Linked DNA regions of Homo sapiens: regions 1 and 2 are each linked to region 3. Evidence: fine-mapped expression QTL. A gene starts in region 3. Each other region holds a variant in brackets. All regions are shown on one strand. Distances are from middle to middle. Region 1 overlaps SCAPER (S-phase cyclin A associated protein in the ER). Region 2 overlaps SCAPER (S-phase cyclin A associated protein in the ER). Region 3 holds the start of ISL2 (ISL LIM homeobox 2).

Region 1 (8,183 bases), 110 kb before region 3:
CCCATCATCTTTCATTTCTAAGTAATATAATAGCCTCCTTCCCTGCTGTTAATTGTAACCCTTCCCATAGCAGCCTACATATTGTGATGAGTCATTTTTCAAAAAATGAAAACTTTTCATGTCACTTCTAGCTTAGAATCCTTCATTGTCTTACCCCTTATGCTCAGAATTGAGAGCTAAACCCCTCAGTATAGCAGGGCCTGTGTGATCTGACAGTCTCATACACCACTAGTCCAACTATCTCCAGCAACCTGCAGCTTCCTGAACACACATACTCTCTTCTGTCTTCTTTCATGCTGTTTCCTCATGTGTCCTCTTCACTACCCAACATCACCACCATCCCAGCAGGCTAAGTTTTTCCTCTTTCTGTGAGACTCAGCTCAGGGGTTACCTTCCCCAGGCACTGCACTTTGCACCTGTCCTCATAAGACCATGAGTTTACTTATCACCTGGAATTCGAATTACATTTTACTTACCTGTGAACTCTGGGAGGCAAGACCATGTTTTTCCTCTTCACCTGTTGAGTTTATCACAGAGTCGAGGACATAGTATTCAAAAAATGTTCAATGAATGAAAGCAATTGTTGTAAGCTAATGTGTTTTGTAGTTCAGATAATAATATTATTTCAGAGATAGGTGTCTAAGAATATAGGAATAACAAACTCAGTTTCAGCTATACTTTCACAACACAAAATGAGTTTGTGACCTCAGATGTTTAGGGGTCTTCCGACACACACACCAAGCCAAGTAGTCCTTCAGCAGCAAACACCTGCTGGGAGCCTCTACTTCAATTCAATTCTGACTACTTGAAGGTAGCATCATACCCACAGGTTTAGAGCTCAGTCCCACAAGACTGTCCACCACTTCAGATGCCAATCAGAAGTCTCAGGTTGTTTTACCTGTGCTTCTGACCAAATGACTATAAATCAGAGTTCCCCATGACCCTTTCCTTGGGTTTGATGAATTTGCTAGAGTGGCTTACAGAACTCAAGGAAACACTTACATTTACCAGTTTATCACAAAGGATGTTACAAAGGATACAGATGAAGAGATTTATAGGATGAGGAAAAGAAGCATGGATTACCCTCTCCAGGTGCACCACCCTCCAAGAACCTCCATGTGTTTCATGCTCCTGAAGCTCTTCAAACCCTATCCTATTGGGTTTTTATGGAAGCTTCATTCCATAGGCATGATCAATTAAATCATTAGCCATTGGTGATCAGCTTAACCTTCAGCCCTTAATACACCAGACCTAACAAACATCATGGCTTAGCGTAGTCCACCTTAAATGTGCTCAAAACACTGACATTAGCTTATAGTTGGGCAGAATTAGCTAAAACAGAGTCTGTTGTACAATGAAGTGTTGAACGTCTCATGTAATTTATTGAATCATGTACTGAAAGTGAAACAGGGAATGGATGTATAGGTACTCGAAGTATGGTTTCTATTGAACGCGTATCTCTTTCACACCATGATAAAGTCAAAAAATCATAAGTTGAACCATGGCAAGTTGGGGACTGTCTGTATATATTTCACAGTATTATGAGATTATGGATGACATACATTTCCTTTTTCATATGAATTTGTCTACTTCAGGATATGCACATAACTGCCTCTTTAAACTGTAGGGGGTTCTCCAGAATGTTAATCTCCATCCTATAAAGTGGATAGCAAAGCTTAGTGATTATCCATAACACATCTGTCCTTATAAGTTTCTATTGAGCTTGCCTGAAGAGATTAAAGGAAATTTCAGTTCCCTATATGTGCAAAAACAACCTATGAGAAAATAATAGATACTTGTATTTCACTAAAGCTCTACCTCTAAAACTTCCCCAGGTTCTTGTGCAGCTTTTGCTATGAAACATGTCTTTTGGGCAGCTATTGCAATGAGAAACAATGTTTAAATGATTCATTAGCACCAGTTGAAGCCTGGATTTTCATTTATCTAATCATGATCACTTGTTGCAGTGCCCTGGAAATAGTAATAAAACTTCCATCACGCTTGTTTAGTGCTTTATAATTTTTGAGCACTTTCACGTGTCACCTTGATTAATTTTCAGTATTGTATACTACAATAGTTAAAGACTCAGGCTCAGAAGTGAGACAGCCTGGATTGAAATCCTGACCCTGATGTGATTTAACCTCTCTGAACCCTAGTTTTCTTGTCTGAATATAGGAATAACAATATTTATGATTTGTGAGAGTGTTGTGTCGATTAAGTGAAATGATCCAGATGAGCTGTTATCATGGAACCTCACATTAAGTGCCCACTAAATGTTAGCTGCTATTACTATTATCACTACTGCCCCTTCTACCACTATTTCTACAAGAAAATTCCCTGTGCAGTAAGAGTGGATATTACCTCTGGAAGAATCAGAGGTCTTAAGAAAGGGTTAAGCACTCATGCAACGCCCCTCTCGCCATCCCTTGGTGGTGTTAGAGAAGGCTGAGTGGGAAATCGAGATTTTAATCCTCATCCAGCAGTAATGATGCACCTCCACCCGGGGTGCATGGAGACTGTATTGGAAGCCTGATTTTTTACCCCTACTGAGAGATAGTGAGATTCTCCTTCCCCAGTCACCAGGATGGTGCCAGAAGGGGCCAAGTGAGATGCCAGGACTCACCAGCTTCCTGTGGTAACAAGCCCTATCCCATCCCCTCATGTGGAAACCCCTCCTGTGGAAACCAAGTAACATGCCATCTCCAGGTGGTGATATCAGTAACATGCCATCTCCAGGTGGCTAACTCAGAAGCCTGAATTCCTGCCCTCACCTGATAATGAGGCAGCCTTCACCCCCAGCTGACAGTAATGAGGTGACACTCCCTGCCCCCCATCAGAACAGTGTCAGAGGAGGTCTTCTAAAACAAGATTTCAATAAGATACAGTCTTATCATACACAAAGTTTCCAGAATATAATTTAAAAATCACTCATCATAGAAAGAACCAGGAAAATCTCAACCTGAATGAGAAAAGACAACAGATGTTACAATTCTTACATGGATTTTAAAGCAGCCACCATAAAAATGCTTCAACATGCAATTACAAATATGCTTAAAGCAAATGAAAAAGTAGTCTCGGCAAAGAAATAGAAGATATATTTTCTCACTTACAAGTGGAAACTAAGCTATGGGTATGCAAAGGCATACAGAGTGGTATAATGAACAATGGAGACTCAGGAGGAGAAAAGGTGAGAATAGGGTAAAGGATGAAATGGGTACAGTGTACACTATTCGGGTGACAGGTGCACAAAAATCCCAGACTTCACCACTATACAGTTCATCCATGTGACCAGAAACCACTTTGATCCCTAAAGCTATTGAAATAAAATAGAAGATATAAAGAATAACCAAGTGAAATGCTATAATTGAAAACTATAATAATCCAAAATTTTAAAAGTCAATGAATGTGCTCCAATGACTGAATGGGGAGAAAGGATGAAAGAATCAATGAATTTGAAGTTAGAATGATCAAAATTACCCAATCTGAAGAACAACAGAGAAAACAGACCAAAATGTTTTAAGTGACCAGAACCTAAGGACTGATGGAGCCATAACAAGAAATCTAACATTCATGTCACCAGACTCATGGGATCTAACATTCATGTCATCAGATTCATGGAAGTAGAAAAAAGACAGGGATGAAAAAGTATTTGAAGAAATAGTAGCTGAAATGGTCCCAAATTTGGCAAAAGATGTAAATGTGTGGGTTCAAGAAGCAGAGCAGACCACAAACAGAATAAACAAAAGGTAAATTGTTGGACTTAAGCCCTAACACATAGGTAATTAGATTAAACATAAATGGTTCTGAAATAACAAAATTTTATTTAAAAATGGGAAAGATTAGTTTACAGCAGTGAGGAGAGAGGGAAAACTTGTGGAAAAACTGAATTACATAATGAACATAAAAAATGTGAACTTTATTTTTTTAACTTAAGTTCCATCAAGTTCAAGACACTTTTATAAGTGGTACTACCAGCCACCTAATTCATCCCTAAAAAACTAAGGGTCCTGGGAATTTAACCATGTCA[G/A]TGCAATCTTTTTTACATTATTAACTGAAGAAAAATGGGGCCCTTTACAGATTTTTTAAGATTAGGAAACAAGAAGTCAGAAGGAGACAAATCAGGACTGAAAGGTGGATGCCCAATGATTTCCCATCAAAACTCTTGAAAAGTTGCCTACATTTGATGAGAATAAGCAGGAGTATTGCTGTGGTGGAAAAGGACCCTCTGGTGAAGCTTTCCCAGGTGTTACTCTGCTCATGCTCTGGCTAACCTTCTCAAAACGCACTCATAATGAGCAGATGTTATCATTCTTTCACCCTCCAGAAAGTCAAAAAGCAAAATGCCTTGAGCATCCCAAAATGTTGCCATGATCTTTGCTCTTGACTGGTCCGCATTTGCTTTGACTGGGCTATTTCCACCTCTTGGTAGCCATTGCTTTGATTGTGCTTTGTCTTCAGAATCATACTGGTAAAGCCATGTCCTATTGCAGTTCTTCCAAGAAGTGCTTCAGGATCTTAATCCCCCTTGTTTAAAATTTCCATTGAAAGCTGTGCTCTTGTCTGCAGCTGAGCTGGACACAATGGTTTCGGCACTCATCAAGTGGAAAGTTTGCACAACTTTAATTTTTCAGTCAGAATTGTATAAGCTACCAGTTGAGAAGTCTGTGGTGTTAGCTGTTGTTTCTGCTATTAATCATCAGTCACCTTCAATTAGAGCACAAAATGAATTCTTTCCTTGTAAATTGATGTAGATGGTCTGCTGGTGCAGGCTTCATCTTCAACATCATGTTGTCCCTTCTTAAAACAAGTTATCCATTTGTAAACTGCTGATTTCCTTGGGCCATTGTCCCCATAAACTTTTTGTAAAACACCAGTGATTTCACAATTCTTCCACCCAAGCTTCACCATAAATTTGATGTTTGTTCTTGCTTCAATGTTAGCAGAATTCGTCTTGCTCTTAAAGGGGATCTTTTCAAATGGATGTCTTATCTTTCTTTGTGCTTCCAACTAGAGCCTCTTCAGACATGTTATAACAAGTTGGTGTAAGTTTATTTTGGTGCAAAAATAATTGAAATCCATGCATAGTTTTTTCAAAATACACATTTTTCACAAACATTTTGAAGACCTCTTATATTAAGGAGCCCCTGCACTGTTTGGGAGGATGAACTAGATAATCAACTTTAGGCTTTCCAACTCTGGGAGTCTCTGATTTTCTCCATTCATCAAGGTCCACCATCTATCATTATTTTTAGAAGGTGATTCCCTCAGTGGTGGTGTTTTTTACCCCAACTTTCGCTGTTTATCTGTCTTCTCATTTGCATCAATACACATGCCCCCACCACCTTTTTCACTGGTTTTTTAAATTATTTCCTGGTTTTTGCCTGTATTCCAGATAGATGAGATTACTTGAATAACTTCATACTCATAAATAAAGACCTACAGAATCTGAGACTTAAAAGAGGTCTCAGAGATTGAGTCCATCCTTATACTAGGAAAGATATAATGGTGTTAGGGTATATCACCTAACATGGAGTCAGATGTTTTGAATTTGAGAAGCTGCTACATTATTTGCTGACTTCAAGATCTTGTGTAAGTTGCTTAACCTTTCTGAGCCTCTGTTTTCTCATTTGCATAATAGGCATAATAATAGATATACTGGAGGGTAGCTATAAACATTTAATGGATAAATATGTATAAGGGGACCTAGCTTGCCATCTTACAGTGGACTCTCAGTAAATATTAATTAAAGCTGAATGTCCTCATTTTATACATAAGGAACTGGATACTCACAAGTCATGCTGGTAGCAGCAGGTGAGATAGAATGAGAGAGACTCAGGCCTCCCAGGACAGTGCTCCCAACACACCAAAGTTGCTATGTAAATGCCTCTAAAACCTACCCATTCTTTCATTGGACAAATATTTAGGCACTGGAACTACAGAGACAAATTGTAACTCACAGTTTAGTAGGACAAACCAGTAAGAGACATTTAAAATGTAGTATAATGAGTGCTGCAGTAAAGCACAGCATGTACAAGGTGTTTGGGAATTACAGTGAGGCACATAACTTATTTTGGGGGGTGGGGAAAAGAAAAGATGTACCTCATAGACTACAGTAACTGAAGCAGGAGTAAGAGGTGAACACGTAGGATATTGCATAGAGAAGGATTTTGCGTGCAAAATTCCTTTCTTCCTTTAATTCACTTTACACCTTTGCCCAGGATGACTAAATACTATATATATCTATATCTATATATACATGTATATATAGATAGATAGATAGATATTTAATGCTGGTTTTCTCTTTAACTTGGACCTTCTAAATATCCCAATTATTGGTTTGGTGAATTTTTTTTAGTGAAAATCAGTGTCTACATGCATTTAAAAAATATTTAGTGAACATCTACTACATGTCTGATGTTGTGTAGGCACTGGGATTGTAGCAGTGATCAAGACAAAGTCTCGCTCTCGTGGAGCTTATATTCTGAGAGAGAGAGGAAATAATGTACAGTATGTCAGGAGGTAACTATTGCACTGGAAGAAAAATAAAGTTGAGTAAGCAAGAAAGGGAAGATAGGTTTGGGGAGAGAAATATTACTTTAAATAAGACACTCTGGCATAACTTATGGATAAGATGACATTTGAATAGAGACCTAGAAGAAGTGGAGAAATTAGTCATGAGGTTACCTGGGGGAAAGATATTCCAGGCAGAGGAAATACCAGAATGCGAGCAAGAGACAGACTGACTTAGTATATTAATTTGGGGAGGAATGGATGTAGAGGATAGATCAGAAGGGCTTCCTTGGGCATCATGAGGTTTGGAGCTTTTAGTTTGCAGGAAATGAGATACCAGGGAATGTGTTGAGCAGAGGAAGTATATGATTCAACATGTATAACGAAGACTTTTGTAAGCATCATGACCACTAAGGCATACACTATAAAGTTTGCTGACATTTTATCTTGTTAGGATTTTGGCTGCATAAATATAGGCTCAAAGGCATAAATATGTTAGAAAGGGTAATGATATTTAGGATTAATTGCAGTGTCTTCTTTAATATTGTCATAACATTGTTTGTGGCATAAAAAGAAGGAGAATAGGCTGGGCACGGTGGCTCACACCTGTAATCCCAGCACTTTGGGAGGCCAAGGCGGGTGGATCACGAGGTCAGGAGATCGAGACCATCCTGGCTAACATGGTGAAACCCCGTCTCTACTAAAAATACAAAAAATTAGCCGGGCGTGGTGGCGGGTGCCTGTAGTCCCAGCTACTCAGGAGGCTGAGGTGGGAGAATGGCGTGAACCTGGGAGGCGGAGCTTGCAGTGAGCCAAGATCGTGCCACTGCACCCCAGCCTGGGCGACAGAGCCAGACTCCGTCCCCAAAAAAAAAAAAAAAAAAAACAAAAAAAAAACCAGAAGGGGAATAATTTTAAAAGATAATAGTGAGGAACTACTAGCCACTTCTATGTGATTTCCTTTTATATTTTCAAGCCATGTAAATTGTTGAGGTAAATACCTTTCATCAGTTCTATTTTTATGCATAATATAACATGGGCATACACGTTTTATAAATATCAGTGGCAAAAAGACTGTTGCATGTTTAGTGACTGTTTCGTATAGGAAATGAGGCCAACAATATAAGAACTTGTGTCTGCTGCTGGAGCCCTTCCACGTTTTTTGCCTTTTTTTTCTGTACTCTGACACTGTCTTGACAGTTTTCTAAACAATCTCTTATTGATTCTCAGTGAACCTAATTCATATTCTGAGCATTCTGTATACACTGTACAGCTTGAAAATATGTAAACCTATCTTCAGAATACTAAAAAATAGTTGTACAGAATTACCAGTAATTACTAATTTTATTTTCTCTCTCATGGAATCACATTACAGAACAATAGATTTCTATTACTAATAAAAGCATCTTTCTGTATTGCAAACAAGAATGTTGAAAGTATTTGAAACCACTTTGGCAATGGGAAAAAAGAATACATGCTTGGCTTTTAAAAGTTATAATGACTTTTAATTTAACTTCGCTGAAAACATTTTGATTCAGGGCTTGGTCCTATAAACATTGGGTTTCATTTTGGAATAAGTTTAGAGAATCGGCACCAGTATCTATTCCAGCCCTGATGATTTCTGTATCCTCAAGGAAGTCTTTTTCTCCTCTGGACCTTGGTTTCCCCAAAGA
Region 2 (8,183 bases), 480 kb before region 3:
TTTCTTTTGCTGTGCAAAAGCCTTCCTCTCTCAACTGGTCAAAGTCATTCTCCGTCCAGCTTTGTTCTGTGCTGGTGAGGAGCTGCGTTCCTTTGGAGGAGGAGAGGCGCTCTGATTTTTAGAGTTTCCGGTTTTTCTACTCTGTTTTTTCCCTATCTTTGTGGTTTATCTACCTTTGGTCTTTGATGATGATGACGTACAGATGGGTTTTTGATGTGGATGTCCTTTCTGTTTGTTAGTTTTCCTTCTAACATTCAGGACCCTCAGCTGCAGGTCTGTTGGAGTTTGCTGGAGGTCCATTCCAGACCCTGTTTGCCTGGGTATCAGCAGCAGTGGCTGCAGAACAGAGGATATTGGTGAACTGCAAATGCTGCTGCCTGATCGTTCCTCTGGAAGTTTTGTCTCAGAGGAGTACCCAGCCATGTGAGGTGTCAGTCTGCCCCTACTGGGGGGTGGCTCCCAGTTAGGCTACTTGGGGATCAGGGACCCACTTGAGGAGGCAGTCTGCCTGTTCTCAGATCTCAAGCTGCATGCTGGGAGAACCACTACTGTCTTCAAAGCTGTCAGAGAGGGACATTAAAGTCTGCAGAGGCTACTGCTGCTTTTTGTTTGTCTGTGCCCTGCCCCCAGATGTGGAGCCCACAGAGGCAGGCAGGCCTCCTTGAGCAGTGGTGGGCTCCACCCAGTTCGAGCTTCCTGGCCGCTTTGTTTACCTACTCAAGTCTTGGCAATGGTGGGTGCTCCTCCCCCTGCCTCGCTGCCGCCTTGCAGTTTGATCTCCGACTGCTGTGCTAGCAATGAGGGAGGCTCCGTGGGCGTAGGACCCTCCGAGCCATGTGCGGGATATAATCTCCTGGTGTGCCGTTTGTTAAGCCTGTTGGAAAAGCACAGTATTAGCGTGGGATGACCCGATTTTCCAGGTGCCGTCTGTCACCCCTTTCTTTGACTAGGAAAGGGAATTCCCTGACCCCTTGGGCTTCCCTGGTGAGGCAATGCCTTGCCCTGCTTTGGCTCACGCACGGTGCGCTGCACCCACTGTCCTGCACCCACTGTCTGGCACTCCCCAGTGAGATGAACCTGGTACCTCAGTTGGAAATGCAGAAATCACCCATCTTCTGCGTCGCTCACGCTGGGAGCTGTAGACTGGAGCTGTTCCTATTTGGCCATCTTGGCTCCACCCCCCTTATTGTTGAGTTTTAAGAGTTTTTTGTATGTTTTGGATAACAGTGTCTCTTGTATGTCTTTTGCAAATATTTTCTCCCTGTCTGTGGCTTGTCTTATTCTCTCAATATTGTTTTTTGCAGAGCAGAAGTTTTTGATTTTAATGAGGTCCAGCTTATCAATTTTTTCATTCATGGACTGTGCCTTTGGTGTTGTATCTAACAATTCATTGTTGCATCCAAGACCATCTAGGTTTTTTCCCTGCAAGTTATACTTTAGGAGTTGTATAGTTTTGTATTTTACAGTTGGGTCTAGGATCCAATTTGAGTTAATTTTTGTGAAGATTATAAGTTCTGTGTCTAGATTCATTAGTTTTTGCATGTGATGTCCCATTTATTCTAGCATCATGTGTTGAAAAACAATCTTTGTTCCCTTGTATTGGCTTTGTACGTTAGTCAAAGATCAGTTGATTATATTTATGTGGGTCTGTTTCTGAGCTCTTTGTTCTGTTCCATTGACCTGTTGGTCTTTTATCCTAGTACCACCCTGTCTTGATTACTATAGCTTTTTAGTATTTCTTGACATTGGGTAGTGTTAGTCCACCAGCTTTGTTCTTCAAAATTGTATTGGCTCTACTGAGTCTTTTGCTTCTGCTGTAAACTTTAGAATCAGCTTAACTTGCTGGGATTTTGATTGAGATTGCATTGAATTTATAAATCAGGTTTGAAAGAACTGATTGACATTTTGACAATATTGAGTCATCCTATCCATGGATTATCTTTCCATTTACTTAGTTTTCTAATTTTTTTTATCAGAGTTTTGTTGTTTTCCTAATATAGATCTTATACATATTTTGTTAGTTTTATACCTAAGTATTTCATATTTTGGGGTGTTAATGTAAATGGTATTCTGTTTATTTACATATATATTTGTTATATATATTTGAGATTTATAACATGTTTTGACATACATATATGTAGTGAAATGATTACTGCAGTCTAGCAAATGAACCTATCACCTCACATAGTTACCTTTTTGTGTGTGTGGTAAGAGTAACAAAACTACTCTTTTAGTGAATTTTTAGTATACAATACGTTATCATTAACTAGTGCCCTCATGCTGTATATTAGATTTGTAGACCTGTTCATCCTACGTAATTAGAAGTTTGTATCCTTTAATCTACATCTCCCTATTTCCTTCCTCCCCCTGACCTTGTTAACCAACCACTGATTGTCCCTTTCTTTCTACGTATTCGACTTTGTTTAGATTATATATATATAAATGAGATCATACACTATTTTTCTTTGTAGGTCTGGCTTATTTCACATAGCACAATGTCCTTGAGGTTTATTCATATTGTTGCAAATGTCAGGATCTCCTTTTTAAAGGTGGAATAATATTTCATTGTACAGTCATGTGCTGCATAACAGTGTTTCAATCAACAGCTGACCTACAATGGTGGTTCATAAGATTATAATGGACCAGAAAGATTCTTGTCACCTAGTGATGTCATAGCTGTCATAATGTTGTAGCACAATATATTACTCAGTGTTTGTGATGATGCTGATAGAAACAAGCCTATGGTGCTACCAGTTGCATGGAAGTATAGTGCATACAGTTGTGTACAGTACACAGTACTTGATGATGATGATAATAAATTATGTTACTGGCAGCCAGGCACGGTGGCTCACGCCTGTAATCCCAGCACTTTGGGAGGCCAAGGCGGGTGGATCACAAGGTCAGGAGATCGAGACCATCCTGGCTAACACCGTCTGTACTAAAAATACAAAAATACAAAAAAAATTAGCTGGGCATTGTGGCGGGCGCCTGTAGTCCCAGCTACTCGGGAGGCTGAGGCAGGAGACTGGTGTGAACCTGGGAGGTGGAGCTTGCAGTGAGCCGAGATAGCGCCACTGCACTCCAGCCTGGGCAACAGAGCGAGACTCCATCTCAAAAAAAAAAAAAAAATTATGTTACTGGCTTATGTATTTTTATACTATTTATTGTTATTTTAGAATGTATTCCTTCTGCTTAACAAAAAGAAAGCTAACTGTAAAACAGCCTTTGGCAGGTCCTTAGGTGGTATTCCAGGATAAAGCATTGTCATCAGGAGATGATAGCTCCCATACATGTTATTTTCTTGCTCTTGAAGACCTTGCAGTGGGACAATATGTGGAGGTGGAAGATCCTGATCCTGGGTAGGCCTAGGCTAATGTGTGTGTTCGTGTCTTCATTTTTAACAAAAGTTAAAAAGGAAAAAAAATGTTAGATAGGAAAAAGCTTATAGAATGAGGTTATAAAGATAATTTTGTACAATTGTACAATGTGTTTGTGTTTTAAGCTAAGTGTTACTACAAATGTCAGAGTTTAAAAAATACTAAAAGGTTTATAAAGTAAAAAGATTGTAGTAAGCTAAGGTTAATTTATTAGGAAGACAGAAAATTTTTGTATGGATTTTGTGTAGTCTAAATATGTAGTTTATAAAGTCTCAGCAGCATACACTAATGTCCTAGGCCTTCACTTACCATTCTCTCCTTTACTCCCTCCCTCACCCTCCCTTACCCAGAGCAACTTTCAGTCCTGTAAACTCCATTCATGGTAAATGCTACAGGTTTATCATTTTAAAAATATTTTGCAACGTATTTTTACTGTAGATTTTCTGTGTTTAGATGCACAGATACTTAACATTGTGTTACTCTTGGCCTGTAGTATTCAGTATAGTAACATGCTATACAGCAGTAGTCCTCAACCTTTTTGGCACCAGGGACTGTTTTTGTGGAAGACAATGTTTCAACGGACTGGGGTCGGTGTGGCAGGGGTAGTTTCAGGATGAAACTGTTCCACCTCAGATGATCAGGCATTAGACTGTCCTAAGGAGCACTCAACCTAGATCCTTCACATGTGCCGCTCACAATAGGGTTTGTGCTCCTATGAGAATCTAATGCTGCTCCTGATCTGACAGGAGGTGGAGCTCAGGTGGTAATGTTTACTGGCCCACTGCTCACCTCCTGTTGTGCGGGTCAGGTTCCTGCCATACAGGTTTGTAGCCTAGGAGCAATAGGCCATGCCATATAACGTAGGTGTGTAGTAGGCTGTACCATCCAGGTTTTTGTAAGTACACTCTGATGGTCGCACAATGATGAAATTGCCTAACAATGCATTTCTCAGTATATCTCTGTTGTTAAGTGATGCTTGACTGTATGTATGTGTGTGTATATATACACCACAATTTCTTTACCCATTTATCCATTGATGGACACTTAAGGTTGTTTCCATATCTTGGCTATTGTGAATAATGCTGCAAATAAACATAGGAGTGCAGATGTCTCCATGAGGTGCTGATTTCATTTTCTTTGGCTATCTACTCAGAAGAGGGATTTTTGGGTCATATGGTAGTTGTATTTTTAATTTTTTGAGAAACTTTCATACTGTTTTCCATAATGGTTATACCAGTTTACATTTCCACAAATAGTGTACAAGGGTTTTCTTCACACCCTGGCCAACAGTTGTTATTATCTCTTATCTTTTTGATAATAGCTCTTCTAACAGATGTGAGG[T/A]GATTTTTTTTTTGTTTTAATTTGCATTTCCATGATGATTACTGATGTTGAGCACTTTTTCTTATGCTTATTAGCCATTTTTATGTTTTCTTTGGAAAAAAACTTCTTCAGATTCTTTGCCCATTTTTAAATCTGTTATTTGTTTCCTGTTATTGAATTGTGTGAGTTCCTTATATAGTTTGGATATTAACCCCTTATCATATACAGAGTTTCCAAATATTTTTCTCAGTCTGTAGCCTGCTTTTTCATTCTGTTAAATGTCTTCTTTTTATTTGTAGGAAAGTTTTTATTTTGATGTAGTCTCACTTGGATATTTTCGCTTTTGTTGCATGAATTTTTGGTGTGATACCAAAAAAATTATTGCTTGAGGTCACTATTAAGGAACTTTTCCTTTTGTTTTCTTCTAGAAGTTTTATAGTTTCAGGTCTCATGTTTACATCTTTAATGCATTTTGAGTTTATTTTTGCGTATGGTGTAAGATAAGGGTCTAGTTCCTTCTTTTACATGTGGTTATTCAGTTTTCCCAACACTATTGAAGAGTTTATCCTTTTCTCATTGTGTTTTTTTGGTGGTCTTGTTGAAAATTAGTTGACCACATATGCTTGAGTTTATTTCTGGGCTTTCTGTTACATTTCGTTGTTCTGTTGGTCTTCATGTCTGTCTGTATGCCTGTCATTACAGTTTAGATTACTGTTGATTTGTAGTGTAATCTACAGTCAGGAAATGTGATGCCTCCAATTTAATTTTTCTCTCTCCACATTGTTTTGGCTATTTAAAGTTTTTTGTAGTTCCATACAAATTTTAGCATTGTTTTTTCTATTTCTGTGAAAAATGCCAGTACAATTTGGTAGTGATTGCATTGAGCATGTCACTTTGGATAGTATGAATTTTTTTTTTTGAGATGGAGTCTCGCTTTGACGCCCAGGCTGGAGCGCGGTGGCGTAATCTCGGCTCACAGCAGCCTCTGCCTCCCGGGTTCAAACAATTCTTCTGCCTCAGCCTCCCGGGTATGTGGGATTATAGGCACCTGCCACCATGCCCAGCTAATTTTTGTAATTTTAGTAGAGACGGGGTTTCACCATGTTGGCCAGGCGGATCTCGAACCCCTGACCTCAAGTAATCTGCCCACCTTGGCCTCCCAAAGTGCTAGGATTACGGGTGTGAGCGACTGCACCCAGCCTGTATGAATGTTTTAACAGTATTAATTTTTACAACCCATAAACATGGAATAGCTTTCTGTTTATTTGCATCTGCTTCAGTTTCTTTAATCAATGTTTTATAGTTTTCAGTGTACAGATCTTGCACTTCCTTGGTTATATTATATTTATTCCTAAGTATTTGATTCTTTTGGTGCTATTATAAATAGGATTTTGAAAATTTCTTTTTAACATAGATTGTTATTGATGCAAAGAAGTTCAACAGATTTTTTGAATGTTGATTTTTGTATCCTGCTACTTTTCATTTAGAAGTTCTGACCTTTTTTTGTGTGTATGTGACACCTGTAGCATTTTCCTGCATATAGAATCAATTCAAATGCAACCATGGATAATTTTACTTCATTATTTCTGATTTGAATGCCTTTTGTTTCTTTCTCTTTTTTTTTTGGTCCGATTGCTCTTGCTAGTACTTTCAGTACTACATTGACTAGAAGTGGCCAGAGTGGGCATCCTTGCCTGGTACTAGATCTTAGATGAAAAGTGTTATTATGTTGATATTGATCACTGTTGATTATGATGTTAGCTGTTCGTTTTTCATACATGACTTCTACTATATTGAGGAAATTTCCTTCTATACCTATTTTGTTGAGTTGTTTTTTTTTTTTTTTTTTTTTTTTTTTTAGTGAAAGGATATTGAACTCTGTCTGCCAGATGCTTTTTCTGTGTCTGTTGAGATGATTATATGCTTTCTTGCCTATCATTGTGCTAATGTGTTGTATCTCATTGATTGATTTGCATGTATTGAACCATCCTTGCAGCTCAGGGATTCATCTCACTTGGTTATGGTATATTATCTTTTTGATGTATTGTTGAATTTGGTTCCCTAGTATTGAGCATTTTTGTGTGTATATTCATCATTTTTTGTGTTATCTTTTTCTGACTTTGATATCAGGATGAAATTGATCTCATGTATGAAATTGAAACTCTTCCCTTTACTATTTTTTTTTTTCTGGAAGTATTTAAGAAGGATTTATACTAATTTTTTTGAATGTTTGGTAGAATTCGGCTCTGAAGATATCTGGTTTTGGACTTTTCTTCATTGGGAAGTTTTTGATACTATTTCAGTCATTTTGTTACTGGCATGTTTAGGCTTTCTGTTTCTTCTTAATTCAGCTTTGGCATGTTGTATGTTTCTAGGAACATACTGTTTCCTTAGGTTATATATGTATTGGTATATAATTGTTCATAATCAACTTTTATGATCTTTTATATTTTCAAGGCGTCTGTTGTATTGTCCCTCTTTATGTTTCCGATGAGTCATCTCTTTTTTTCACCCTAAGGTTTTGCCATTTTAAAAAATACAACCAACTCTTTGTTTTATTGATGTCTGTCTTTCTTTCTTTCTTTCTTTTTTTTTTTTTTTTTCAGAGTCTCACTCCGTCACCCAGGCTGGAGTGCAGTTGCATAGTCGTGGCTCACTGCACCCTCTGCCTCCCAGGTTCAAGTGATTTTTGTGCTCAGCCTCCCAAATAGCTGGAATTACAGGCGCATGCCACCATGTCCAGCTAATTTTTGTTTTTTGTTTTTTTTTTCTTGAGACGGAGTCTCGCTTTGTCACCCAGGCTGGGGTGCAGTGGCACAATCTTGGCTCACTGCAACTTCTGCCTCCCAGATTCAAATGATTCGCCCACCTCAGCCTCCTGAGTAGCTGGGATTACAGGTACCTGCCACCACACCTGGCTAAGTTTTGTGTTTTTAATAGAGACAGGGTTTCACCATACTGGTCAGGTTGGTCTCGAACTCCTGACCTCAAGTGATCTGCCTGCCTCGGCCTCCCAAAGTGTTAGGATTACAGGAATGAGCCACCATGCCCGGCTATTGATGTTTTTCTATATTTGATTTATTTCTATTGTTATCTTTATTATTTTCTTCCTTCTGCTAACTTTGGGTTTAGTTTGTTTTTTTCCTAGTTTCTTGAGTTGTAAAGTTAGGTTGTTTATTTGAGATATTTCTTCTTCAATATAGGTATTTATAGCTACAAGCCTCCTTTTTACTTTTTTGTTTTGTTTTGTTTTCCCTTTTTTATTTTATTTTTTTTATTTTTTTATTTTTTATTTTTTGAGGCAGAGTTTCACTCTTGTTGCCCAGGCTGGAGTGCAATGGCGTGATCTCAGCTCACCGCAACCTCCACCTCCTGGGTTCAAGCGATTCTCCTGCCTCAGCCTCCTGAGTAGCTGGGATTACAGGCATGTGCCAGCACCCCAACTAATTTTGTATTTTTAGTAGTGAGGGGTTTCTCCATGTTGAT
Region 3 (8,183 bases):
TCGGAGAAGGAGACCTGGGGCGGCGGAAACACCGGGAAGAGGCAGGTGAAGAGGCACGCGAGCTGGTGCTCCAGGGCCGCGTGCTCCGAGTCGGAAAGTGTCCCTTGGGGACCGGCCGCCAGCTGAGAGCAAGCCCTGCGGAGAAGGAGGCCAGGTCCCCAGGCGCACGAGGGGGGGATTAGGGCGGGGGAGCGGGTTGGTTAATCCTGCGACCTCTCTTGTGAGCACTTTAATCCAGGGAGACCTGGTTTAGGGCGCGTAATGGGCCGAGGTGAGGTTTCAGAGCCCGCCACTGTTCCCCCTCCCCCACCGCCTAGGGCTGTACCCAGCCCCTCAGCCCAAGGCCACCCCCTCCCCTCTCTGCCAGGCTAAGTGGCTAAATCCCCAACCCGCAGAGTCCCGAGGTCGGGGCGGGTAGGGCAGGGCCTCACCAGCTGTTGGAAGGCGGGTTGGTCCAGGTCGCTCTGGAGGGCAAACTCGCTGAGCGCCTTCCACGGCGGCTGGTACGTCTGCACCTCCACTGCGCTGCCCTGCACGGCGTTCTCATGGCGGATGGGACTGCCCGCCACCAGGGGCGTCCCAGTCAGTCCCTGAAGGCTCTGCGGGGCAAGCAGAAGGCAGTAGGTGCTCGAGTTAGGTCTGGCCTTTTCTGCCACCTTTGAGACTGGAGCTCCAGGCCTTGAGTGATTTAGGGTCTGCATTGCTTTGCGGGGAGGCGCACACTCGATCGCATCGGAAGAGCCCTCTTTCTCCACTGGGGATCTGCGGGGGCCGCAAACTTGCCACGATAGGTCAGCCTCGGTGCTGGAAGCCAACCGCCCGGTGAGGAAAGGCAAGACCTGCACTCCCACCTTTCTGCAGCTGCCGACGGAGTGCACAACCCACCAGCCCGACTGGCGGGCGCTGCACACTGCCATGCAGCCTTGGGCTCCGCGCAGCGCCCGGAACCCGCAACGCGGGGCTGCCACTGGGACAAGGAGAAACCCCGATCCCAGACAAAATAGGAAGCCTCAAATCCAAGGGAAGCCTTGCTGTGAAGGTACAGACATACACCATCTGGAGCGCCCAGTTCTCCCTGGATCTCCCAGGGCTCGCCCAGAAAAGGGCACGCAGATACCGCGGCGGAAGCGCAGCCCCCACCCGACTCGAGCCTCCGGCCCAGCGGCTGCTCACCGTCTTGTCGCTGTGCTGCTGCTGCTGCAGCTGCTTCATGAGAATGGATTTCTTCTTGTCCTTGCAGCGCTTGTTCTGGAACCAGACGCGGATGACCCGCGGGCTCAGGCCGGTCATCTCCACCAGCTGCTCCTTCATGAGAGCGTCGGGCCGCGGGTTGGCGGCGTAGCAGGTCCGCAGAGTGTGCAGCTGCTTCTCGTTCAGCACAGTCCGCACGCGGGTCGTCTTCTCCGTCTGCTTGTGCACGTGCGGGCGCAACGCGGGCTGCCGGCCCGACCCAGCGTCTGCCAGGACAGGGTGAGGCCAGAGGTTAGCGAGGGGCCGCCACCCACCCGCCCCGAGCCCAACCTCCGGGTGGCCCAGCCCCCCGGGGCCCGATTTCGTTTCTGTTTTATTCTGTTTGTTTCGTTTAATTGTTCGTCTTCCTCTCCATCTGTTCGCCTTACTCGGAGAGAGCTGTGCATTTTCGTTCTTTCTCTCGCTCCCGGGCCGGACTGCCCCGCAGCGATCTCTCCCGAGCTCAAGCAGGGCGCGGGAGCTCGGCGACAGGCCGCTGCGGGGAGGGAGTGGCTGCTCAGGGATGTGCCTCCTCCAGTCGCAGGACCCTCGGAACGAGCGAAGCCCTCCGGAAGAAGTCGGAGTTTCAGAGGAAGAGGAAAGAGGCTTGCCCAGGACTCTGGAGAGGGAAAGGGACCGACGTGGACCCAGGGCGAGGCGCTGCCCAGGGGACTGGGTGGGAGGTGCGAATATGCCGGGGGCCTACGAGGGCCCTTCCCCTCCTTCAGAGCCCATTTGGACAGGGCCAGGCCACATGTGTAGAAGACTCATCCACGGTTATGGACGGGCCTCCAGGGCTTGCAACAGTTCCTTCCTGCCCGCCCTTGGGCTTCGGCCCCTGTCTCCTTCCTCAAGGCTCCAGGTTCCCCAGCCCAGTGGCCTCCCACCGACCAAGGTGCTGAGCAGCCGCTGGCACTCTCCTCGCTTGGCCCCAGGTTCTCTCCATCCCGGGGAAACAGTGACTGATTCCAGAGCCTGCACCCTGAAGCCCGAAACAAACAAAGGGGAGCCTCTCCGAGATCCCAGATGGGGGTGCACTGAATACCCGCTTGCTCCCATTTCACATCTCCATTTGATCCCGACCCATATATACCGTGGATCTGTACTGCACCATTTCGGTTTATGTTCCCCTCTACGAATTTCTAGGTCTGGACAAATATTTACAAATAGCCCATCCAGCCCAGTTTCCTCTTTCTATAGGGAGGAAGTGAAGATCCAGAGAGGGGAGGAGCGGGGCAAGGCCACACAGCACCCAGAGGCCCAGCCTGGTCTACGGATCTGTGCTGCAGGCCTATGGCTACCTGGGGGAAACTGCCTTGCCTGGGGTGGAGGCACCTCTGTTTCTGTTCAGCCGTACCTGCCCATTATACACTCAGACCCCATCTCTGGGCAGCTGCTGATTAGGACCCAGAATATTCCAGTGACAGTCCACTATGCATTGATACTCCCCCTCCCCCAGAAGAACCTGGCTAAATTGTTCATCAAACTGGGCCTCAAAACAAGATGGCAAAAACCCCTCTTTGTTGGGTTCTTGGCTCCTGGCTGACCAAGCTCCTGCCCAGCTCCCAGTTTGGAGCTGTGTTACTTACACACATACCCCTGGGCAAACCTTACCCTCTGACAATAACACATATTCCTCCAAGAAATTCCTAATACAAGCCCCAAGACGGACACCACTTAAGATTCCCTGTTGTCATCCACTCTTCTGCTCCTAGCACTGTGCCCTGCATGTTCCTGGTCATGGAGAACACGATTCTGCACAATTCTCCGTGCTCACACACTCATACACACGCAGTTTCTCCCGAGCACACGAGAATACACACAGCCTTGTTCCCAGCACACAGTTCCGCACTGATACAGAAAAACACTATCCCGGCAGACGGAACCACACACAACTGACAACTTCTCGTTAGGGACACAAGCGTACCCCTACACACACGCACGCACATACACCCCGCTCACCCCGGCACAGGCCCCGGCGCGCTTACCGGGCAGATGCAGGCCGCGGGCGCCGGGAAGCGGGCCGGGGCTGCGCGGGCTGCCGGCCGCGGCGCGCTCGAGCAGGAGGCCGTGGTCGGCGCGGCAGAGCAGCTCGTGCTCCCGCAGCGAGAACTCGTCCCCAGGCAGCAGCTGGCGGCTGCACACGGAGCAGCGGAAGCACTCGATGTGGTACACGCTGTCCCGCGCCCTCATCACCAGGTCGCTGCTGCTGAAGCCCACCTGGCACTTGGCGCACTTGATGCCGAACAGCCTGCGGGCCCAAGGTGCGGCGGTGTCAGCGCTGGGCCTGCGGCCGCCCTCATCTCCCTGGCTGCTACGGCTCCGGCGCGCGCCCAGGACACTTTGTGGCCACCAGGAGACTGCGGTGACCCGCCTGCGGGCATTCCCGGGCCCGGGGGAGCGCTGCGGCACCCGTGCGGGATGCGGATGGCCTTCTCCCTGGGCAGGGCCGGGGCGCGCGGGCAGGCCGCCATCCCCAGTCCCGGCCCCGGCCCCTGCGCGCGGTGGCCCAGCCCGCGTTCCCGCCGGCCTCACCTGACATAGTCCCGCTTGCAGTAGGTCTTCCCGTCTCTCACGAAGCACGTGCACGTCTCGTCCAGGTACTGGCTGCACTCGGCACACTTGAGGCAGGCCGCGTGCCACTCGAGGTCGGGCGACACCCGCAGGATAAACTGGTCGTGGATCTGACTCCCGCAGCCCACGCACATGGCCGTCCCGGGCTTCTCTGCCGGGGAAGGGCGCGGGGCCGCGTCAGGCCTGACTGCCCGGACCCAGGCCGGCCTCGGCTACTCCAGCCCCAACCCAACCCGCTCGCTCTCTTGCTCTTTCTTTCAAGACTTGCGACCATAAGGAAAGATGATGAGCTCTCTAAAGGTCCAGGGCATTGGAAACGAAAAACCAGTATCTTGTGGATTGCTGAAGGTTTCTTCTGTCCCCCACCCCAAATATTTCGTTATTACATTCATTAATGACAGTCGTTTTGTCGACGTGTCTTGAAACTAAACGCAAACACGAAACTAAGAAGAGAGTAAATACACAGGCACTGCGGACGCCTGGATATCAACACCTAACGGTGCTGTCCTGGCATTTCCGCTCACACACTCCCACTCACAGCGGCTGCCTCCTATCCCAACACAGACACATCGTCTTTCGGCAGTCCCCGCTCATCCTCTCAGACATTTCTTAGTTTAAATATCCCAGAGCAAGCGAAAGAAAGCTTCCTAGCTTTGAAAAACCGAAAGGCAAACAAACAACAACCAAAAAAAAAAAAACCCACATCCCTAAATCAAACCTAATTGCCTTTGCGCAAAACAGAAGCAGATTTCGCAGCCCGAAGTCATCCTAGCCGGCTTGAGAAATAGTGTTTACTTATAAAATAAAACAACAGGATTCCCAAAGATAAGCAGTCCTGCAGGAGACATGCATTCGTTTTTCCTCTCCTAAACTATTCTGACAAATAGAAGCCACTTGTAGAATCCACTAAACATTTTTCTGCATTAGAAATTTTGCATATTAAGCATACACACACACCCCACCCCACACACACACAGAAATACTTACTCTTGGAATGATCACCCATAGCACCCAGAAAAGGATAATGAAAAATAATATCCACCATGCAGAAAAAGAGATGTGCGCAAAGTGTGCGGCCAGGGGCAGAAGGACGAGGGTCGCGCGCCCGGCCTCGGCTCTTTGCTAACTAACTCCTACTGCCCCGCGGAGTTGAAGGAGCGATTCCGCACCGGCCCGCACGCAGCATGACGTCAACACGCACTAGCCCCGGGCCGGAGCTGGGGGCGGGACCTGTGGCGTCACGAAGCTTCCCCAGAACTGCCGGGGATGCGGGGGAGGTGATGGGGATCCAGGGGCTGATGGGCGGGGTGGGTTGGGTTGGAGGCTGGGGGTGAAGGGAGATTGGCTGGGAGGAAGTGGGCCAACCCTGATTGGCCCGGAGTGAACAATGGAGTGCAGCCCCCCCACCTCCGAAACCTACAAGGATCCTCTCTCATGCCCCGGGCCTGGCAATCTGGACTGGACCTTGCGTCACCGCCGAGCTGGCTCCGCGGCCGTTACAACTCTGAGCTTCCTCTTGGACTTTCGGGGCGGTTTTCCCAGGCGCGCTGGAGCTGGGTGATGGATACCTGAGGGTGGAGATGGCTCTCCTTTAAGAGCTCCCTTCTTATATAAATTAAAAAAAAAAAAATTAAACCCACTCTCAGGACGAGAGAGCCGAGGACAAGGGGGATCCGTTTGGACGTGACCGTCATCGTCCAGCTGGTCACCTTTCTCCTCTCATGTGCCTTTGTTCTTCGGGTCCAAGCTAGAGAGAGTGTAGAGAATGACCACCTGGGTTCTGATAAACTCTATTTAGACTTTCCTATCCACACACACGTAGAAAACTTTAGATTGGGGCATTACGTGGGTTGAGCCAGAACCCAGATCCAAAAGCGCTCACCCGGGACTGGGACGGGTCCTGACTCCATCCTTGCTGCTGCTGCCGCTGCTGCTGCCCCTCCTCCCTCTCCTCCACCACCACCTCCTCCTCCTGCTCCACTTCCTTTTTTTTGTTGTTTTGTTTTGCTTTTAATTTGTTGCTGTTGTTGTTTTAAATGTAACATGGACTTCCCCGCCCCCTCATTTTTCCCCCATCCAAATGGCATAGCTCCTTTTAGGAACACTGCTGGGGTCGATTGCGTGTCCAACTTCCAAAATAAAAGATTTTTCTAAACTCTTGTCCTTCATTAACAAACCCACTGCAATGCAAATAATCAGAAACGAACGTAAGGCGCTGGGTAATTTACAGTGGTATCTGCGAGGCGGCGGCTCGTTGGTCCTGAGAAAATCTGAGAGCTCTGAGCACAGTCCAGGCATTCTTTCAAAGAAATCGCTGTGGGTTTTGTTTGAAAGGGTTCAAAGACCGGCCCATGAATTATAAATAACATTTATCCAACCATGGTGTCTGTTCTTGTTTTCCCATTAAAAGGAGTACCAAGAACTTGGTGTGCGCCTGGGTGGGGCGCGAGGTGAAACGCCTGCGGATAAAGTGTCTCCACCGCCATTCCAGACCCTGCCCAGACCTTCGGGCTTGTGGGCCTGAGGGCGCGGTCGCTACTGCCGTTCTACTAAGAGCATGAGGTTGGTTGGCGTCGAAACGGATGCAGCCGAGGGCGCAGGCCGAGGCTTTGCAGAAGGCTAGGGCGAGGCCCCGAGTGCACGCTAACATTATTCGACCATGGTCCACGGTGAACGTTCCTCACCGGCCCCGCGCTGGGGCGAGCGCTTTAAGCCTCGTCCAGTAGCGTCCGGCTTTTGAGCTCCGCCTCCACCTTTAGGAGGTCTAGTCTTCTCACCGGTCCGGCTTTTTTTTTTTTTTTTTTTTTTTTTTTTTTGAGATAGACTCTTGCTGTGCCGCCCAGGCTGGAGTGTAATGGTGCGATCTCGGCTCACTGCAACCTCCGCCTCCCGGGTTCAAGCGATTCTCCTGCCTCAGCCTCCTGAGTAGCTGAGATTGCAGGCGAGCGCCACCACGCCCCGCTAATTTTTGTATTTTTAGTAGAAACCGGGTTTCACCATGTTTGTCAGGCTGGTCTCGAACTCCTGACCTCGTGATCCGCCCACCTCGGCTTCCCACAGTGCTGGGATTACAGGCGTGAGCCACCGCGCCGGGCCACCGGACCGGCTCTTGTTACAGTTTACCACCCGTTGGCCAATAGGCCATTTCTTGCGTCTTTAGTCAACAGTCCCCCAAAGAGCGCTCACCCTGAGTGTGTGCGGGCAGGTCAGGGGTTGGGGGATGCTGCGTTTGAATGAATGTGTTTATGTAAATGGGGGACAAGAGCGAGGGGGTGGGTATCTGTGCCTGAGGCTGTGCCAGGACACCTGTGTGACCTCAGGCATCTTATTTTAATTCTCCTTCCCTCAGTTTCCTCATCTGTAAAATGGGGGTATAATAATTGTAGCTATCTCTATTACATAATAATTAAATAAACTGTTCTCTGGAAAGGGCTTAGAGCAATACCTAGCACAGAGTAAGTGCTCCATATGTGTTAATTATGACAGTTATGACTGTGGCTGTATCTTTATGTTGGGAGCCTCTGCCCACCCTGCCTGCGTGTGTCTGGATGGGGAGGGGAGGTCTAAGTATGTCTCAGTATGTGTCATCTGATGATTTCTTTGTGATTTCGATGTGTGCTTGCTGTGTGTGTGTCTGCTGTGTAGATGGGGTTTGGAGATGTGTGGTCTGTGCATAGACTTTGTGTACAGGTTATATCTGTGAATGTGGGTGCACAGTCAGAACTGGGAGGGGACTCGGTGTGTGTGTCTGCATGTGGAGTGAGGAGGTGCGTCTGGCCCAATGGCCCTACCCTTAGGTGACCCTGGACTAGGCCTGGCTCCCAGCACCTACTAGCTCTTGCTCGCCAGGCCAGGAGCAAGCACATCTATAATTCAGGGGTTCAGACAGCTGGCCAGGAGGGGGCAGCCCCAGGCTGGAATCGTAGTCCCAGCTTTTAACCGTCTCCTGCCCAGAGAAACTCTTCCTTCCCGTCCAGAAAAACCTGTCCTTTGAAACTTCACTAGGGAGGTGGGGATTGGAGAGGGTCACCCCTCCTGGGATGCTAGGAAGCCAGGTCAAAACAAATATTTGTTCAGGGCCACCATGTGCAAAGTCCTTGTTGTTAGCCTATTAGGTCTTAAAAGTAATGCCATGTGGTGAGTAGTATTGGGCCCCTCCAATCCTCGAGGAAACTGAGGCTCAGAGAGGGGAAGTTACTGCCTCAGGTCACAGGTTAAATCATTGCTGGCATTGAACCCAGGTCTATCTGGCTCCATCTTGCTTGCTTTTTTCACTGTGCCATTGAAGAGCCACATGAGTGTAGCTCCATCATTCACCCATTTCACATCTCTGGAGCTGTAAAACCAGGGATCCATTTCAAAATCACTCCATGTGTGAC

What was found. PIP is the estimated chance that this variant, and not a neighbour inherited with it, causes the effect.
Region 1: its variant is fine-mapped to the expression of ISL2 in whole blood (INTERVAL, PIP above 0.99).
Region 2: its variant is fine-mapped to the expression of ISL2 in whole blood (INTERVAL, PIP 0.93).

Annotation. Positions count from the first base shown.
Region 1 is chr15:76,440,132-76,448,314 of GRCh38, reverse strand. All of the region lies in intron 25 of SCAPER (S-phase cyclin A associated protein in the ER), which reads left to right. Among named protein-coding and RNA genes, the nearest start is that of ISL2, 110 kb to the right of the region's middle. The variant G/A (reference allele first, on the strand shown) is at 4,028.
Region 2 is chr15:76,811,601-76,819,783 of GRCh38, reverse strand. All of the region lies in intron 5 of SCAPER (S-phase cyclin A associated protein in the ER), which reads left to right. Among named protein-coding and RNA genes, the nearest start is that of SCAPER, 90 kb to the left of the region's middle. The variant T/A (reference allele first, on the strand shown) is at 4,719.
Region 3 is chr15:76,333,550-76,341,732 of GRCh38, reverse strand. ISL2 (ISL LIM homeobox 2) reads right to left here and starts at 4,960. Exons shown (of 6, transcript NM_145805.3): 1 at 4,792-4,960; 2 at 3,766-3,955; 3 at 3,219-3,481; 4 at 1,174-1,457; 5 at 432-599; 6 at 1-14. The coding sequence starts at 4,849. RefSeq lists enhancers at 840-1,595, 1,793-2,002, 2,023-2,092, 3,640-4,451, 4,877-4,926 and 2 more.